2 linked regions of the Homo sapiens genome follow. The protein of the gene in region 1 interacts with the protein of each later gene in a biochemical or structural test. Each region holds a gene or a part of one and is shown on either strand. Other genes may lie near its edges. The genes, in order: ETV1 and NSMCE2.

The links.
Region 2: of the proteins of ETV1 (region 1) and NSMCE2, one has a biochemical effect on the other in vitro, tested with the Homo sapiens proteins (one study listed by BioGRID).

What each region holds. Positions count from the first base shown.
Region 1 is NC_000007.14:13,895,451-13,899,272, forward strand, and holds part of ETV1 (ETS translocation variant 1), read right to left. Parts: intron 638-3,822; coding exon 416-637; 3' UTR 1-415. UniProt on the Homo sapiens protein: Transcriptional activator that binds to DNA sequences containing the consensus pentanucleotide 5'-CGGA[AT]-3'. Required for olfactory dopaminergic neuron differentiation; may directly activate expression of tyrosine hydroxylase (TH).
Region 2 is NC_000008.11:125,098,153-125,101,974, reverse strand, and holds part of NSMCE2 (E3 SUMO-protein ligase NSE2), read right to left. Parts: intron 2,522-3,822; exon of another isoform or gene 2,418-2,521; intron 1-2,417. UniProt on the Homo sapiens protein: E3 SUMO-protein ligase component of the SMC5-SMC6 complex, a complex involved in DNA double-strand break repair by homologous recombination. Is not be required for the stability of the complex.

The sequences.
Region 1 (3,822 bases):
CCAAGTGGATATTTACACAACGTGAAATTAACTGTACCATAGATACCCCGATAAAATAAACATTATCTTATGTTGTTATGAAATCAAACAGACATGATATAGTTTCATCATACTCAAAACTTGTAGGACCCCATCCCAAGCCTAAGTAAAAAGTAATCCCCAAATCCCTCTGCCCATTCACCCATTAGCTTCCTGTTACACAGAATAAATGTTTAGATTACTCCCACCCACCCTCAAATAAAGTGCACAGTCCATGGCAGACCATAGAATAATGCAACAGGAAAAGCCCCTTTTTGTGTATTATTATTTAAAAATAAAATACAAACAACAGAAATAAAACAAAGATTCAGCAATTCTCTGTATCTTGCAGAAAAAAGGAAAAGCGCAAAAACGCCCTGCTTGACTGTCACTTGTGTTAATACACGTAGCCTTCGTTGTAGGGGTGGGGGTTGCAGCAGCCCCCTTCCGGCATGTAGGCCATGCTCTCATCAAAGTGAGAAAGAGGCACTGTGTCCTCCTCGTTGATGTGACGTTCCATGTCTGTCTTCAGCAGTGGACGCTGATTATCTGGAAAGGCCATGGAGAAAAGGGCTTCTGGATCACACACAAACTTGTAGACATATCTCTCTCCAGCCACCTGATGATAACATGGAAGAGAAAAACCCATCCTCACCATCGCCAGATGGGGAAGGACAGGAAGGAAAAAGCCAAAAACGTGGTTTAATATACAGGAAAGGATGGGTAACTCTGGCCCAAAAAAGCAAACAACTAATAGCAGATACACATAAAAAAAAAAAAGTCTTTACTTTGTGGAATAAACTACAGTTCAGTCAAGGGAGATGCAAAATGTTGACCTTGAATAATAATTAATTAATTCCAGATATAGCTAGGAAGCACAGGAATTTGCTTGTCTTAATATAGAGGTAAACTTACATCGTTGTTTTGAAAAAAAGTCAATTATTTAATGCAGGCATTTCATATTGAAAGCTTTTTTTCTGCATTTTAAAAGGTAGTATCTACAAATCTGTACTTTTAAGGTACACTGTCCCTCTTAATATTACATATCTGAAATGGTAGAAAAACTAAATTCAAAATTTAAAAGAAAAATGTGCTTTATTCCCAATAAGACTAGACTAGTAATTCACTGATTCACAGAATAAATGGATTCTTTACTTTTTTTCTTTTTTGGCAGTGTGTGTTGAAAGAAGAAAGAAAGGAAAGAAATAAAGAAAGAAAGAAAAGAGAGAGAGAAAGAAAGAAAGGAGAGAGAAAGAAAAAGAAAAAGAAAGAAAGGAAAGAAAGAAAGAAAGAAAGAAAGAAAGAAAGAAAGAAAGAAAGAAAGGATACACAGCCTCATTTAAATGAAAGATGGATCAAAAGGACAGTATCCTGGGTACATCACTTTTAAAAATGAAGGCAAGATGCATTAGACAGAGTTAAGGATGTGTGTAAAGTGTCAAATTGAAGTAAGAGGTGTAAAAAAGTGAAAGGAATTTAAAATACACAATGCACAGGGAGGAAATGAGAAAAAGAAATGTGACAACTGCCTGGAATAAAGAAGTAGCATAATTTATAGGGTATGACATACCCCAAACTTAAATTCTGAAGAGTAATGCTTCCCTAGAAAATTATAAACAACTGAGTGAGATGAATACGCCTCTTGTTAATAGACAATGCTGAGATGCTCTCAAAACCCGGGGTGGGGGGATGGGTGGATGAATACAGTTCTTTCTATTAACTTTGATAGTCACTTTGTATGGGTGTGTGTAAAGGTATGAGATTTTAGAAAGCTGAAGGTGACACAACACCTCCATGTTCCTGTATATCAACAAGGCATTTGCTAGTTGATTTTTGATGTGGGGCAACAGTGTGTTCCTGGGTTATAAAGTATTGTTATATCTTTGAGGGAAAAGTAACAATTGTCAATGAATGCTGCTGCTCTGAATTCAAATTTAGAACATTTTTTGTTTCTTTTGCCCTGAATTTAAGTAAGAGGAACCACTTTAGAGAATTCAAATAATCTGAATGTACCTAGGTTTGAAAGAATGAACATTTAGTAGTTTTTATGAATTTGGACCTGTTTCTTAGACTACCTCTCAGTGGCCTTTGCTGTGAAATGGAGACAGGAATGGCGCCTCAGAAAGCCCATTGCAAGGTTGGGATGGAAGTCTCCAGCACAGAGCACTGTGCCAGAAACAGAGGAGTCTGGCATACATTTATTTACTTTAGTCCTTCATACAAAGAAAATTAAGATCTTAAAGGTGAAATGATGAAATGACCATAAACATAAAAATAGCACTATCAGGAACAAAGCTGAGATAGTAAATCCTAGTTTTCCTTTATTTTTTTCTTTGTTCAAAGTATTTGGAGAAAAAATAAAATAAAATAAATGGCCTGCATACCTCTGAGTGTTTTATAATGTGCTTTGTTTTGTTTGGGGCTGTGGAGGAAGATACATTTGCTTTAAGTACTGGACTTCCTTTGACGGGTTGCTACTGGCTATACTTAAAAATTATGTAATAAATGAATTAAAATGTGTAACATGCAATCAAGCTTATGCAATCTCTCAAGGACTCTGCCTTTCCTCACTGCTTCCTTCTGTATTGCTTTTGAATAAACATTTTTAGGGCTACTACTTCATTTGCTGGACTATGTTAAATGCTACTGAGTTTAGAACAAGGGATGATAACCAACCAAGGGGAATGATGTCTTCCATTATGAGTAACAGAAGTACTAACGTGCAAAATGCTGTACATTAAGTATAGCCAAAATGCAACACTGAGACAGACAGAAAAAACAGGAATTTTTCCAGGGAGATAAATCAAAAGTAAACAAGGAGATAGCTTTAGAGCTGTGCTTTCAATGGCTGGATATTCAAATTATGTTTTATCTCTTAAAATTTCAGAAGTAATATGGGGATACTGAAGGATAAATTAGAAATTATCAATTAAGTTAAAACAAAGGGTCTATAATTATATCATCCAGAATATAATCACCATTAACATATTGGTATATATTGTTCTAGGCATTTCCTAATTTTGAAATAGAAGTACACATAGGCATTGTCTGTAAGGTAAACATACACTGTTCCATTGTTTCTTACTTCTTCCGTATTACTAAAATTAATTACCAGTTTTCAATTTTTTTAACATGTTCAGATGTAAGTTATTTTTATTTTTCTCTAATCTTCTAATTTTCTATATTATATACACCACATATGCCCACAAAGTTTTAAGTTAGTGAACAAATATAGCCATATAAATATTTTCTCCTACATGTTAAAATATATAATTCAACATCATAGTTTTTGCTATTTAAAAAAGGACAGCATAGTTTTCCTCTGAATGACTATACTAGAATTTACTTGAACATCAGAATGGTACATATCCGAGAATGTGATTAGCTGGGTGCAGTGATGCAAACCTGTAGTTCCAGCTACTCAGGAGGCTGAGGCAGGAGGATTGCTGGAGCCCAGGAGTTCAGATATACTTTACATTGTGCCAGTTACAATGTAAAGTATCTCAAGTACATTATTTCATTTAATAATCACAGCAACTTTAATGAGGCAAGAATATCACCATTTACTAGGAAAATAATCTGTTCAAGAATGTAATCTGGTGAGAGGCTAGCATTCAAACCTAATTCCTGACTGCCTTATCTGTTACTGCTGTGCAATACTGCCCGGGGACACTGCTGAGCACCATCTGTGACAGCCCAGGCAATGTGCCCCCGCATTAGGAAGATGGTGGTGAAAAGAAAGGAATGGAATGTATTTGAAGGATCTTACTACAAAAAGGTAGGTGAGAGAAAGGGAGGAATTAG
Region 2 (3,822 bases), on another chromosome or scaffold:
TGATGCAATTTTCCAAAGAGAAAAAAATACTAATAAAATAGTTTATTAGTAAACTATTTTGAAAACCTGTAATCGTTAAACTATCCAACATATATGCATACTGAATTCTGGAAACTGTAAAAAAAAGAGAAAATCTATATTCCTGCCAGTTCCTCTGGCTTCTAACAGATTAATAGACTTGGTGAGATCCCAGAGTCAGTGAAAGCAGAATTTCTGTATAAACTTGTCTTCTGGCAGCACATCCACTATAACAGTTTCAGTTATTACCTTCATATTTAACACTTCCTAATCTATATCTTCAACCACAATTTGTTTCAGCTTAGTAAAGCAATGTAAAGCTGCCTACAAAAGGACATCTCTGCTTAATTCAGAAGCCATTTGAAACTCAATCCACTGAAACCAACTAGAAAAGTGGGGAGAATTCACAGTTTTAAAGGGATGGGAGGGCTATTAACAAGGCTCTATGGCAGCAGAAAAAGGGGTATTTTCATGGAATCAGATAGACATAACATGAAGACTGCTAAACATCTCTGAATCTCAGCTTTACCATCTTTAAAATGGAAAGGAATAACCATGGTATGGTATAGCATACAGTACACAATTAATTAGCATTAGAGCCTTCCCTTCTGCCCTTCCTAAGTGGGGAACTGTGTAGTATCTCTGGCATTTCCATCCTCATCATTGCTACCACCTTCATCTCACAGCTGAACTACTATTGTAGTTTCTCCATTATTAGTCCTTTTTAATTAGGTTCATTCATTCATTTCACTCATAAGTATTGAGTACCTACCATGTCAATCATGAGACCCATTCAAAAATCCACAGGATATAAAAAGAGAAGGGCATAGAGACATGCAAGATGCACAGAGATGCATAAGATTTCTAATTTGAAGTGTTTGTTTACCTCAAACATCCACAGTACAACTCATTGTCAGTTCAAATATTTAGTATCTCTTTAAGTGCCAGGCACTTCCTTTAGCATGAGAATACCACAGTTTTCAAGATGAGCACTCTTAAGACACTCTCCTTTTAAAGAATTATTTTGTTATTCTAATTTGATGAAAACCTATCATGAGCCAGGCACTATCCCAGGCACTAGAAATATTCAGCCTTTGGCCAGGCGCAATGGCTCACACCTGTAATCCCAGCACTTTGGGAGGCTGAAGCAGGAGGGTCACCTGAGGTCAGGAGTTCAAGACCAGCATGGCCAACATGGCAAAACCCTGTCTCTACTAAAAATACAAAAATCAGCAGGGCATGGTAGTGGGCACCTGTAATCCCAGCTACTCGGGAAGCTGGGCAGGAGAATTGTTTGAACCTGGGAGGCGGAGGTTGCAGTGAGCCAAGATCATGCCACTGCACTCCAGCCTGGGCAACAGAGCAAGACGCGGTCTCAAAAAAATAAAAATAAAAAAAATTCAGCCTCTACTCCCAGGGGCTCACCACTGAGTAGGAGAGACAGAGATAAAACATAAACCTGATAATTAAAGCAACATGGGAGTTACTGCAAAGCTGAGGCACAGATAAGAAAATGCTCAACTTTGCCTGACTGGATCAAAGAAGGGAACATAGAACTGAGTTTAAAGGATAAAAGACGAAGTTTAACAGATGGAAGGGTAATGGAGAAGGGCATTCAGGCAAAGGAAAAGGCAGGTAGGAATGAAGTGCACAAATCATTGCAGAGTACATAAGACAATACTTGACTTTTCCTGATTCTATTATGCTCTTTTACGACTCCTCTCACTAGAAACTTCCAACACTTCCTCCTCTATCCTCACTCTCACTGAAAGATCTAGTTTCCTAATTTCCTGAGGAAACAGAAGCAGTCAGAATAGAAATTTTGCAAGCTCCCACCGCTTACCTCTCCACCTATCAGCATCAGTTCTCATACACTCTGCTTTCCCTCCTGTTAAAATGAATAAACTGTTGCTCCTAGATAAGGCCACCTCCACTCCAATTATCCACTAGATCCTATCCCTCCCTCCCTACTCTAAGACATTCTCCCAGCAATTCTCCCTGCTTTCCTGCATCATTAAATTTTCCCTCTCTACTGAATCATTCCCTTCAGCAAACAAATACACCATTACTTCTCCCATCTCAAAAACATCCTCCGACTTTCCTCCCACTTACCCCTCTGGTTACCAGCCCCATTTCTCTACTCAGCCTTAGAGCAAAACTCGTCTGTAGATTTGTATACATTTGTCTCCAAATCCTCTCCTTCCATTCCCTTTGGAACCCACCCCCACTAGGGTTCCATCTCTATCACTCCACTGCAACTGCTCTTGTCAAGGTCACCTGAAAAGACTTAATGTTAAATTTGTTATCAATGCTCAGCCCTATCTCCTTTGACCTATCAGCCAGCAGTATGCAACACAGTTAATCACTCCCTTCCTGATGCACTTTCTGCACCTGCCTACCTTGTTCTTGTTCTCATTCTCCTTTCTGTTTCCTCTCCATCTCCTTGAGCTCCATATGTTGTAGGGTCCCAGGTTCAGAATCCAAGCTTCTTTTTCTTCTCCTTCTATACCCAAATCAAATACAGCCCTGCCTCAGGGCTATGCCTTCTTGGTTCCCTCTGCCATGATACTGGTCCCCTAGATATCTACTAGGTCAATTCCCTTACTTCTCTAAGGTCTCCCTTTGAGTATCACCTCATCAGTAAGGCCTTCCCTGGCCATCTGATATACAACGGCAAGCCCTCCCAATCTCCACCCCCAGGCATTCCCACCCTTCTGCTTCTGCTTTATCTTTCCTCAAGGCAGGTATTGCCAAACGACATTCTTGTATTTATTAGGTTTATAGTGTCTAGTCCCCAATTACACTGTAAGTTCCTTAAACTTACAGACTTTTTGACTTTTTCTGTTTTGTTCACTGCTGTATTCCAAGCACCTAAAACAACGCATGGCACATTAGTGGCCATTCAACAAAGGCTTGCTGAAAGAAGGAATGAATGTAATACTATGTATCTCCAGCACCTAAAACAGCACATGTCTCCAAAACTGTAGTATAGGTGGTATGCCCAGGGCTCAGTGCTCTGATCTCTCTTTTCCATCCTCTCCCATCCACCTAGTGTTCCCAACTAGACCCATTCCATCTAAATACCATTGGCAAGATCACTCCAGAACTTAAAACGTCCAACATGGAAGGCCCACATTCCTTCTCTCCCACCCTACCCCTCCCCCAAACCTACTCCTTTTACAACCTGCCCCATCTTACTAAATAGCAACTCCATCCTTCCATTTGTTGAACCAAAACTCTTGGTTCATACTTGATCCTTCTCCTCCTCCCCTCATATCCTATACCAAACTCAACATCAATTTTGCCAGCTCTGTAGTCAAACTATCTCCAGAATCCAACCACTCTCACCAATTCTGCTGATAACACCGTGATTCAAACCATCATCTCTTGCCTGAATTACTCCAACAGTCTCCTACCTGGTCTCCCTGCTCTCAGTCTTGCCTCTTCCACCCTATTCTCAACACAGCAGCCAGAGTAAACCTTTGAAAATGTACGTAAGATCATGTGACTCCTCTGCTCAAAAACTCCTAAGGACTTCCTGACTCACCGGGAGTAATGGCCAAAGAGCTTCGTAATAACTGACAATAGTGGTTCTCCAAATGGTTCCTGACCAAGTGTCACCAGCATCACCTATGAACTTGTTAGAAATGCAAATTCTCAGGCCCCAACAATCTACGTTTTAACAAGTCCTCTATGTAATTCTAACTCTGATATATCTAGGAGACATGTAGTGTCAGTGTATTGAATCATCTGATGGGCCCATTAAAACACTGATTGCTGGACCTCACCCTCAGAATTTCTAAT